2 separate regions of the Homo sapiens genome follow, and region 2 is linked to region 1. Evidence: fine-mapped expression QTL. A gene starts in region 1. The other region holds a variant in brackets. All regions are shown on one strand. Distances are between the middles of the regions.

The links. PIP is the estimated chance that this variant, and not a neighbour inherited with it, causes the effect. A credible set is the group of variants that fine-mapping cannot tell apart.
Region 2: its variant is the best candidate, but not a certain one, in a credible set for the expression of ECI2 in ovary (GTEx, PIP 0.80).

Annotation. Positions count from the first base shown.
Region 1 is chr6:4,133,261-4,138,638 of GRCh38, forward strand. It overlaps ECI2 (enoyl-CoA delta isomerase 2), which reads right to left and starts at 2,315. Exons shown (of 10, transcript NM_206836.3): 1 at 2,251-2,315; 2 at 289-451. The coding sequence starts at 2,300. It overlaps ECI2-DT (ECI2 divergent transcript), which reads left to right and starts at 2,812. Exons shown (of 4, transcript NR_103764.1): 1 at 2,812-2,988; 2 at 4,101-4,142. RefSeq lists silencers at 2,361-2,500, 2,661-2,870.
Region 2 is chr6:4,097,669-4,103,046 of GRCh38, forward strand. It overlaps the pseudogene TEX56P. Among named protein-coding and RNA genes, the nearest start is that of FAM217A, 21 kb to the left of the region's middle. The variant G/A (reference allele first, on the strand shown) is at 2,638.

The DNA.
Region 1 (5,378 bases):
CAGTTGATTTATTCTAATCAAGAGCTAAGTAAGGTCTACAAATGTGAATATTATATCTCGTAAGTCTCTTTTACTCGTGTGACACTGAGGCACTTTGTGCCTTAATAGTATTTCAAGGTCTAATATAAAAAACTGGCATATATATATATACACACACACACTCTTCAGAGAAGAGGGAGCAAGACAAACCAAAATGTTAAGGCCACATTTTAGTAAACACACAGTGTATTTATTTAAGAAGTCATTTGCCCAAAATTCTTTAAATAACGTTCGACCGTAGGCATTTACCTGCTTATATAGCGCGTAGAGTTTTAGCTTCACTTCGTTTCCTGGATCCTTTTTCAAGAGTTTCACTTGATTCATTGAATTTTCAAAGTCCTTCTGACTGGCTCTCATTGCTGTTCTATTCATGTGCAGCTGAACTACCGGGAAACTAGTGACCTGCAGAGAACTACAATTAGGCAGACTGATTTCTATTTGTTCCCAACCCTCACATTTCTGCAGCCTGATTTCTAATTGTTCCCAGCCTATACATAACAAAATGCCATGTTTGTCTATAGATATTTTCTTTATACTTGCCTCAGCAAACTGGCTGCAAATAATTGGCTGTAAGGATTCCAAGATAATAAGTCAATACAGAAGCTAACAGTAGTAACTTTAAATAAAAGGAAAAGTAACCATCCAGGGAGGTATCTGTAAGCAACTAAAGATAAAAGCAGCCAGAACAGGAATGACCATGTAAATTTTGCCAAAGGCAAGAAGTGAAGTGCATGCAAGACAGTGGACAGCAGGAAACCAAAAGGCTAAAGTGCACAGAATTTAGTGAAGTGTCCCAAAGTCCTGAAACAGCCTCTGCACTCACTGATAAGCCATAAGCTATATCAGGTCAATTCTTGCCTCTTTGCTGGCGAAGCTGGTGTTCCAACATACACACAGGTGGAAGGAGGGGAGAATGGATGTGAACATACAAGAAATATTCAAAAGAACACACGAGCAGTTGCTGGCATTCCAGATAGAGCCACAGCCTTCTCAGCAGATGGGAGGGAATCTACCTGCAGTGGAAGGGAGTCAGTGAAGGGGGCTCAGCAGGCGTGCCCCTTTCTATGGGTATGTTTAACCAGCCAGCCAGGAACAGAGCAGAAACAGCAACCACCGCGGGGGTGATCAGCACGTTTTTAAGCACACATAGTGAGCGGGGGTGGGGTGGCAAACTTGAATGCACAGGACTCAGGCCACAAGCTAAAAATGGAGTTCACGACGATGACACTGAATAATAGAGTTAATGGCAAAAAAGATGATTAAAATAATACAGGTTACAAAGCCCAAACCTAACACACAAACACAATTATGTAACTCGAAAATGGTGCAATGAACTCTAGGTTCAAACTTTGGACTATTAGTAACTGATTCAGTAAGATCAGCCTAGAGTAAGTTTTACATTAAAATGATTTTCTGTAAAGGGAAAAACTGCATCTTATATGGCAAATTCCACGTAGAAAACGAAAGAAAAATTTAAAATATCCACAGAAAGCCGAAATGTACAAGTTTCCACAAAATGTGGAACAAATTTATTTTTAAATAAAGCGTGAGTTTTAAAAACAAATAGCAAAAACACGACCATTTAAGAAAATACATAAAGTCGGGAAAATCACTCATAATTCTACCACTTCAAGGCCACCACCGTGTTTCGGTTTTGTTCCCTATGCACAGATTCGTGCGGGTTCCCGGGACCCCAGGGAGGTGCAGCGTGCTTCTTAGCCGTTACTCTGTACCCGGCCATTTCACTTTATAGCATACGTGTTCTCCAAGAAGCAGAGTGTTAAGTCCACACGAGTGATAACGGCTTGCGTTTACCTCGCTTTTAGCAAGCGACGCTTTGCACCCCAGAAGCAGCCCGGCTGGGAAGTGCAGGCCCGGGTGCTCAGCTGGGGCGGCTCACCCGCCCGGAGTCCGGCCCCAGGAGGATGGGAGCGTGCGCGGAGGCAGGCGGAGACCTTGGGGACTGCTGACAGGGAACCATAGCCCTGACCTCCCGACGCGCCCATCCTGACCACTCCGGGCCCAGCGGTGCAGGAGGGCGCGCGTGAGGTCGTCACTTTTTAGCACTACCTCACCGGAAAACCAGCAAAGCAAAATCCTGTTGCCACCTAGACAATAGGGAAGGAGGGTCTTCCAACGGCGGCGACCTTCGCCTGGACAGCGGTATCCTGCGGGCGACCATGGGCCGAACGGCCGGGACTCCAAGCTTACCTCGGACACGAACGCCGCGCCAGTCTCCAAGCCAAGTACGCCATCGCCATCCCTTGGGCGGCTCTAGGGCTGCGGGGGCTCGGGGGTGGGGCCGGGTCTCGGGGGCGGGGCCTAGCTCGGTCTGCGGGGGCTCGGGGGTGGGGCCGGGTCTCGGGGGTGGAGCCGGGACTCGGGGGCGGGGCCTAGGCTCCCGGGCTGCGGGGGCTCGGGGGTGGGGCCGGGGCTTGGGTGCGGGGCGGGGCCGAGAGCAGAGCCCAGGCAGGAGCCTGGGGCATGGGCGGGGCCAGGGTTGGGGCGGGGCCAGGCTGAGAGCGTAGCCACGCCGCATTCGCCATCGCTAGCCCGTGGCCTCCTCTGGGGCTGCGGGGGCTCGGGGGTGGGGCCGGGGGGGTCGGTGCGTGGGCGGGGCGGGAGCTCTAGGCGGTTAGGAGTCGGGGCTCAGATGCGGGGGCGGGGCCGGAGCGAGGCCGGGTATCACCCGGGAGTGGAGGAAGTGCGGGGGGTTCGCGGCGCGGGGAGGGTGATCCCGGGAGGACTTGCGCGGCGCGTGGGGCGGGGCACAGATGCTCCCCGGCCTGGCTCCGAGTAACTGCGAGCTGGAGGCGCGGCTGCTCTCTCGGGCGGACCTCAGCTCTGCGAACCCTGTGGCTGCCGGAGCACTGAGCGCCCTGCCCGGAGTCCCGCGGAGCCTGGCGAGGAGGGGTCGCTGCATCCCGAGGGCCAGCCCTGAGCCGGGAGGTGGGGTAACAATTGAGGGCGTATGCTTAAAAGCTGCTAGGTCATGCATCCCCAAATCGAAGGTTTGCAGACCTGGTAGGACGCCTGGGGGTCAGAAGTGATTTTTGGAGTACCCAAGTTTTTAGTGTCAGTGAAGAGTTTGTGGATATTTTTGAGTTCTGCTGAGGCATTTGCAAAGTATTTTCTTTGGGGAAGAATTCTTAAGAGTTGGAAGGGCCTTGGCTGTGTCACCTTGTCCAGTTCCCAGAGAACCAAAAAACAAAACAGAACAAAACGAAACAAAACCACCCCTCTAAATTCTGTGCCCAAGTTGTCCCATCCAAGCATGCCTAGGAGTTTTAGATTTATGTAGCTGACACCTGTGGACTACCTATAGTGAGCCAGGCTAATTGTAAGTCTTTGGACAACCCTGTAAGGAAAATGATATTGCCCTGTTGAGCTGATGTGGAAATTGCCCTGTTGAGCATATTGCCCTGTTGAGCTGATGTGGAAACTGAGACCCAGAAAGATTAATCAGGTGAATTCCCCAAAGACAGGAGGCTTGCAGGTGGGCAGAGTCCAAGTCTCAAGTAACTTTATCATTAAGTTTCATCAGGTAGATCTGGGTAATAGTGTAGATGGGGCAACACCAAAAGTCAAATAGAACAATTTGGGCTTATCCCAAAGAGATTTTTTTTTTTTTGAGATGGAGTTTCCGTCTTGTTGCGTAGGCTGGAGTGCACTGGCACAATCTCGGCTCACTGCAACCTCCACCTCCTGGGTTCAAGTGATTCTCCTGTCTCGGGCTCCCGAGTAGCTGGGATTACAAGCATGCGCCACCAGGCCCGGCTAATTTTTTGTATTTAGTAGAGATGGGGTTTCACCTTGTTGGTCAGACTGGTCTCAAACTCCTGATTTCAGGTGATCCACCCGCTTCGGCCTCCCAGTGTTGGGATTACAGGTGTGAGCCACCACACCTGGCCTCTCCATATATTACAAAGTGGTAGTTGGTAGGCTGAGCTGCCTCTCTCAGAGACCTTGACTCTCTCCAAGGCTGTTAGATAACCTCAGAGGTAATGGAAATGCAGTAATCAGATATTGCAGATAATACAAGACTCATTCATTTCCAGAAGATGAAACAGCTGTCATGGAAATATTTTTTAAATCTCATACTGGTAAGCATATTTTGATAGTGAAACCTTTTGCAATGCAAGCAAACTACTCTCAGGCTTATACCTACCACAGAAAAGAGTGGGGTGTGGGAAATTAGCTTATCTTTTTCAAACTATAATTTTAAAAATATAGAAAGAGCATGTGTCAAAGATTTACTTAGCTCATTAATTAGGGAACCAACAGGGTGCTAAAGAAGAAGTTAAAAGACTAGTTTAATATAGTCAATGTTAAAAAAAGAATGCTGGAATAGATTGCAAAGTTAGAAACAAAACTGGTTAATATCCCATAGAGCAATAAAACCATAACCTCGGGAGGAATGTTTTTCCTATTGGAGAAATCATTTGCATATCTACCAGCTGTCATTTACTAAAGCCCCATTATATCCAGCATTTGAGAGAAAGGAGATGGTTAAAGAGACAGACATTCCTGGTTAAAGAGACAGACATTTAGATTCCTAGATCCTAAAGAGGGTCATCTTGGGTCCGTATTTGGTTTACTAAACTGTTAAGAGGTGTCCAGACCATGCCTTGTAAACATGGCTGCCATGGCCCTGTGGGTGGGAGGGCCAGTTGCAGCAAAAGGGAACCATTGTGATTTTGGTAGATTCTCCACCTGAGCTTGAAGATCATTGTATCTGTGCTAAGGAGTTTGGATTCCGTGCTGAGAGCAAGCAGAGAGCCATTGAAGATACAATTGGCATGCCCAGCTATCCAGTTCTCAGTGAAATCCTGGACTCCAGATATATCTTCAGGGTGTAATGGTTCTGGATAAGAGTAGGAAAGGCAGAAACTCAGTCAAGACCTCTCTAAAGCTCTAATCTTCACCCTGTTATATAACCAGCTTCCCCTGGAGCTTATGAAAATCTTGGGGAGGGGGTCCTCCAGTCTGGTTAGATCCTGTCTTATTGATTGCAGGGGACTGATGCTGCCTGGGAGGGCCGTTGATGTTCTTTGGGTTGAGAGAATCTCAGACTCTCTTAGCAGGTGCACAGGAAGTGTTGTCTCCGGCTATAATGAATCTTTGGGGTCAGCATATCGACTTCACAGTGTTGTGCTCAGTGGTAGTGTGAATGTTTCTTTTTTAAGATCATAGAATAGATTATATCAGAGTAGAATGTTACATGATGACTCTGTCAGTCATGATAATTTTTATTTCCAATATTTACATCATCAGATACTGTTGTTACAGCATGTACAGAGTCTGTCACATTCAGTCTTGAGGAACAATTCTGATACACT
Region 2 (5,378 bases), 36 kb before region 1:
GCAATTGTAGCTGTACCGCTGGCCATCCAGAGCTCCTACAGTAGGCCGCAACAGTCCAAACCTCAAGTCTCAGTTATTGGAACACCCAAAAGAAGGAAGGCATTTCCCACCGGCATAGCTGAAAATAGACATGCTTATAACAGAGCGAGAAAAAACAGTTCATTTCTGGCCAGAAATGAATTTTGTGGAATCAAAAAGAACAGTAAGTGACACTCCCACATTCTAACTGACAAAGCATGCTGGAAGTTCAGTCCTATGTTGTAATCCTTGCTCAGACAAAATCATCAATAAAACGGGGCCCCAAGTTGTGCGGCCTGACAATAATGTTAACATTCACCCTATTTCTTCTGGGAAGTTTCAAAATGTGCATCTCCAATTAAGTATGCAATTAAAGGGAAAATGAGAATCACAATAATAATAATTGTATGGTAACTTGCCATTAGTTTGAGAATCATGCACACATAACCAACTCTATTTGTGTGGTCCCAGCATGCCTGCTTGTTTGCTCATTCTTTTTTTTTTTTTTTTGAGACAGAGTCTCACTGTCGCCCAGGCTGGAGTGCAGTGGCGCGATCTCGGCTCACTGCAAGCTCCGCCTCCTGGGTTCACGCCATTCTCCTGCCTCAGCCTCCCGAGTAGCTGGGACTACAGGCCCCCGCCACCATGCCCGGCTAATTTATTGTATTTTTAGTAGAGACGGGGTTTCACCGTGTTAGCCAGGACGGTCTTGATCTCCTGACCTCATGATCCGCCCACCTCGGCCTCCCAAATTTTGGGAGGTGTGAGCCACCGCACCCGGCCTTGTTCATTCTTTTATTTACTTACAATGTATCTGCTAGATGTCTAGGACCAGGCTAAGATCTGAATGGTGCTCAGTAATATTGTTGGAATAAAGGAATGACAAAGCTAAATAGGAATTATTATTATTATTATTTTGAGATGGAGTCTCGCACTGTCACCCAGGTTGGAGTGCGATGGCACGATCTTGGCTCACTGCAGGCTCTCCCTCTCGGGTTCACACCATTCTCCTGCCTCAGCCTCCTGAGTAGCTGGGACTACAGGTGCCCGCCACCATGCCTGGCTAATTTTTTGTATTTTTAGTAGAGACGGGGTTTCACCATGTTAGCCAGGATGGTCTCGATATCCTGACCTTGTGATCCTCCCGCCTCAGCCTCCCAAAGTGCTGGGATTACAGGCGTGAGCCACCGTACCCGGCCCAATAGGAATTATTAAGCTGCATATATATGTTTTCTCAAATCAGTGCCTTGTTACTCTTGCTATGCAAAGATGGAGAGGAACATTGAATGTATTAATGCTTATTCTATTACCAGGTGAGAATCCTGAACTCTCTGGCTTAGAAAGAATCTTAGCAAGACATCAGTTGCCAAAAGAGATTAATCTGACCCCAAAGCCGAACAGAATGCCCCCGTGGAAAAGAAAAATCATCAACAATGTAACTGACGGGTGGAAGAAATGTCACTTGTTGAAGAGAAACACGAAAGAGCCTCCAATGTCCACCATAGTTGTCAGGTAGACTCTAATTTCTGCCTTATGTGGATATATTTAGAGATACACAGGGTGATCACAAAATCTCTATATGCCTTAGCTAAAAAATGATAAGCACTGTTCTATATAAAAGCACATGGGCCCCATTTTTACCCACCACCAAGCTGCTAGAGGAGCCCTCACTGGGAGTAAACTCATGGAAATGGGAGCAGGAGTGTGGGTCCTCCATGGCCCATTGCAGTCTAGAATAGAGAGCAGAAATCTAGCAAGAACAGAGTGGGATTCTTGGAGAGAAACCCAACCACTGAGCTTTGGGGCTTTTTGGCTGCGTAAGTTGGGAAGCAGCTTGGTTTTTCACACCCACCATTGGCATGACCAGGGGCTAGGATACCATAGCAGGACATGGTGGACCTTTGGCTTTATCCCTGGTCTGCCAGACTGTACATGGAGAGAACTGGAGCACCATTGGACAGTCTTAACAAGAGGAGTGACATCATCTGACCCAAATCCTCTCTAGCCTCCCAAAGAATGCATGGGTGGAGGAGAGCTGTTGGGAGATTTTACAGCTCTGCAGGTAAGGGATGGTGGCCCAGGTGGTAACAGTGGGGATGTGGAATTGGTTGGATTCCGGTGCTCAAAGTCATAAGCTTTGGTTCCTTGGCAAATTATCTTTTTTTGGTGCACTTCTTTCCCTGCTTATGCCAGATAGATGGTGTTTCTATATTTGTTTTTTTCTTTTCTTTTCTTTTCTTTTCTTTTTTTTTGAGACAGAGTCTCGCACTGTCACCCAGGCTGGAGTGCCGTGGCGCGATCTCAGCTCACCGCAACCTCCGACTCCTGGGTTCCAGTGATTCTCCTGCCTCAGCCTCCCGAGTAGCTGGGATTACAGGCATGTGCCACAACACCTGGCTAATTTTTTTTGGTATTTTTAGTGGAAACGGGGTTTTGCCATGTTGGCCAGGCTAATCTCAAACTCCTGACCTCAGGTGATACAACTGCTTGGCCTCCCAAAGTGCTGGGATTACAGGCGTGAGCCACCGTGCCTGGTCTATATTTGTTTCTTTCGTATTGCTGCATGTATGGCAATGATGCCTACACTTTGTACATAGTAAGTATTCAAGCAATTTTGCC[G/A]GGCTGTCAGGATAAATGTAGATGTTGCTACAAAGACAGGATCATTTCTGATTTGAAGGTAACATAACCGGGAGAGAGTTCCAGCTCATGAATTTGCCTGAACTGGAAGCTTCCCCTGGGATTATTGCCCTGGTGAAACAGAGTCCTTGTCTGCATTTTTTTCAGTGTCCTCAGTGGCATAATTTGCCAATTTGATTTAAATATTGGTAGCCAAAGAAGGCAAAGGTATTATTATAAAAGAAGGTGGTCAATGGAACCATGGTGTTTTCTGGACAAAGCAAAGACACTACATTTTTTGTCCAGAAGTAGGTAAAGGTTATATTAAGTGATGATATCTGATTACTCAAGTGAAGATTATTTGACCATGCTTTGGAAGCCTGATATGATTTGGCTCTGTCCCCACCCAAATCCCATTTTGAATCGTAATCCCCACATGTTGGAGGAGGGGCCTGGTGGGAGGTGATTGGATCATGGGAACAGATTTCCTCCTTGCTGTTCTCATGATAGTGAGTAGTTCTCAAGAGATCTGTTGGTTTTAAAGTGTTGCACTTCTCCCCTCGCTCTCCCTCTCTCTCCTGCTCCACCACGATAAGATGTGCCTGGCTTCCCCTTTGCTTTCTGCCCTGATTGTAAGTTTCCTGAGGCTTCCCAATCATGCTTCCTGTTAAGCCCGTGGATCTATGATTCAGTTAAACCTCTTTTCTTCGTAAATTACCCAGTCTCATGTAGTTCTTTATAGCAATGTGAAGACAGAATAACACAAGACCTATTTTTAAACATTCAAGTTTCACAACCATAGAAAGTTTGTACACCTCAATTTTAGGTCCTGATGTCTTCATATGAAGTTATAGATCTTTATATCCTAGTTTGCTTTCTGAAAATATAGCTAGAGTATCAGAACATAGGAAATGGTACTTTTTTTTAACATTTTATTTTACAAACATTTATTTGCTTTCCTTAAAAGCAGGGACTGTCAGCCTATCTTATTTATTTTTGTATTCCTAGTGTTACAGGTTGGAGTCTCAAGCGCTGAGATAGAAATAAGAATGCAAAAGGTTTCCTGGGAGTGGTGTTGCATCAAAGTGGAAGCAGGAAAACAGTGTTGGGCAGGGATTCAAGAGGTGGAGAAACAGGCTTCGCCCCAGTGGAAGGAGGTGCAAAGTCATGTTGCAGGGGGCTTCGGTACAGGACAGGTGGGAGGATTAGGCCCATTTTGCAATCAATCAATCATGAACCTTGTCTTGGTTGCTGTGACTCCAGATTCCTGAAGGATCTGCTGAATTAACTGTTCTAGTTCTGATGATGCCTCCTGGCATTAATGATTCTTCTCCTATTACCTGGTAACATGGTAAATATTGTCATTTGATAACTGTATCATTCTTAATTCTTTGTGACTTAACTGACACCCTTGAGAGAATTCATTCTTTAGCCAAAGCAAGCCTGACTATTATTAAGAATCATCAATAATAGCTTTGTCCATAAAACTAGAACTACCATATGACCCAGCAATCCCACTACTAGGTGTGAACCCAAAGGAAAGTAAATCAGTATGTCAAAGAGCTCTCTGCCCTCCCATGTGCATTGCAGCACTATTCACAACAGCCAAGATATGCAATCAACCTAGGTTTCCATCAACAGATGAATGAATTAAAAATGTGGTGTATATACACAAGAGAATACTTTTTAGCATAAAAAAGAAGGAAATCCTGTCATATGAGGCTGCATGGATGAGCCTAGAGGACATTATATTAAGTGAAATAAGGCCCAGAAAGACAAACTTCAAAAGGTTCTCACTCATTTGTGGGCGCTAAAAATTAAAACAGTTGTATTCATGGAGGTAGAGAGTAGAAGAATGGTTTCTAGAGGCTGGGAAGGGTAGTGGAGGTAGTGAGAGGAAGTGGGGAAGAATACTGCATGCTCTCGTTCATATGTGGAAGCTGAAAACGCTGATCTCACAGAAGTAGAGAGTTGAGTAGTGGTTGCCAGAGGTTGGGAAGGGTAACGGGAAGGGGTGGATAGCCAGAGGTTGGTTACCCGATACAAAAGTACAGCTAGACAGGAGGAATAAGTTCTGGTGTTCTATAACACTGTAGGGTGGTTATAGCCAACAATAATTTTTTGTTTATTTTCAAATAGCTAGAAGAGGGCATCTTGAATGTTCCCAACACAAAGAAATGAAAATTGTTTGAGGTGATGACATGCTCATTACCTTTATTTGATCATGACACATTGTAAACATGCATCAAAACATCCCACTGTATCCCATAAATATGTGCAGTTATTATGTCAATTTAATCGAAGAATAGCTTTGTTTTTGTCTAAGAGCTATTGAACACTACTGATTCGTGTGCCCTTGACCACCTGTAAAATGGTGTTGCTAATACCTCATGTTGTATCAGAAAGAGTTGTGACACTGATAGAAAAACGACTGTGAAATTGAGTTTTGACAAGTATGAAGTACTATTTGAATGCATTGTACAGTATTTTCACGTGTTAGATTGAGGCAACTGTAGGTCCTAACCTTGAACCTGCCCTGGCAAACATTTGCTCAGTTTATGCTGTGTATCCCCGCTAGCACGGAGAGGATAAGGCCCCTCTCTCACATGGCAATAGCAGTTTTAGGGCCACAAAACAGGCAGATCATACGTGAGGCCTGCTGGCTTTGACAAAGTTCCTTCAGTGCTGTGCTATGTAAACAGATCAGCAGGCACAAAAGCCAGGAGTCCTGGGACCATGCCGGT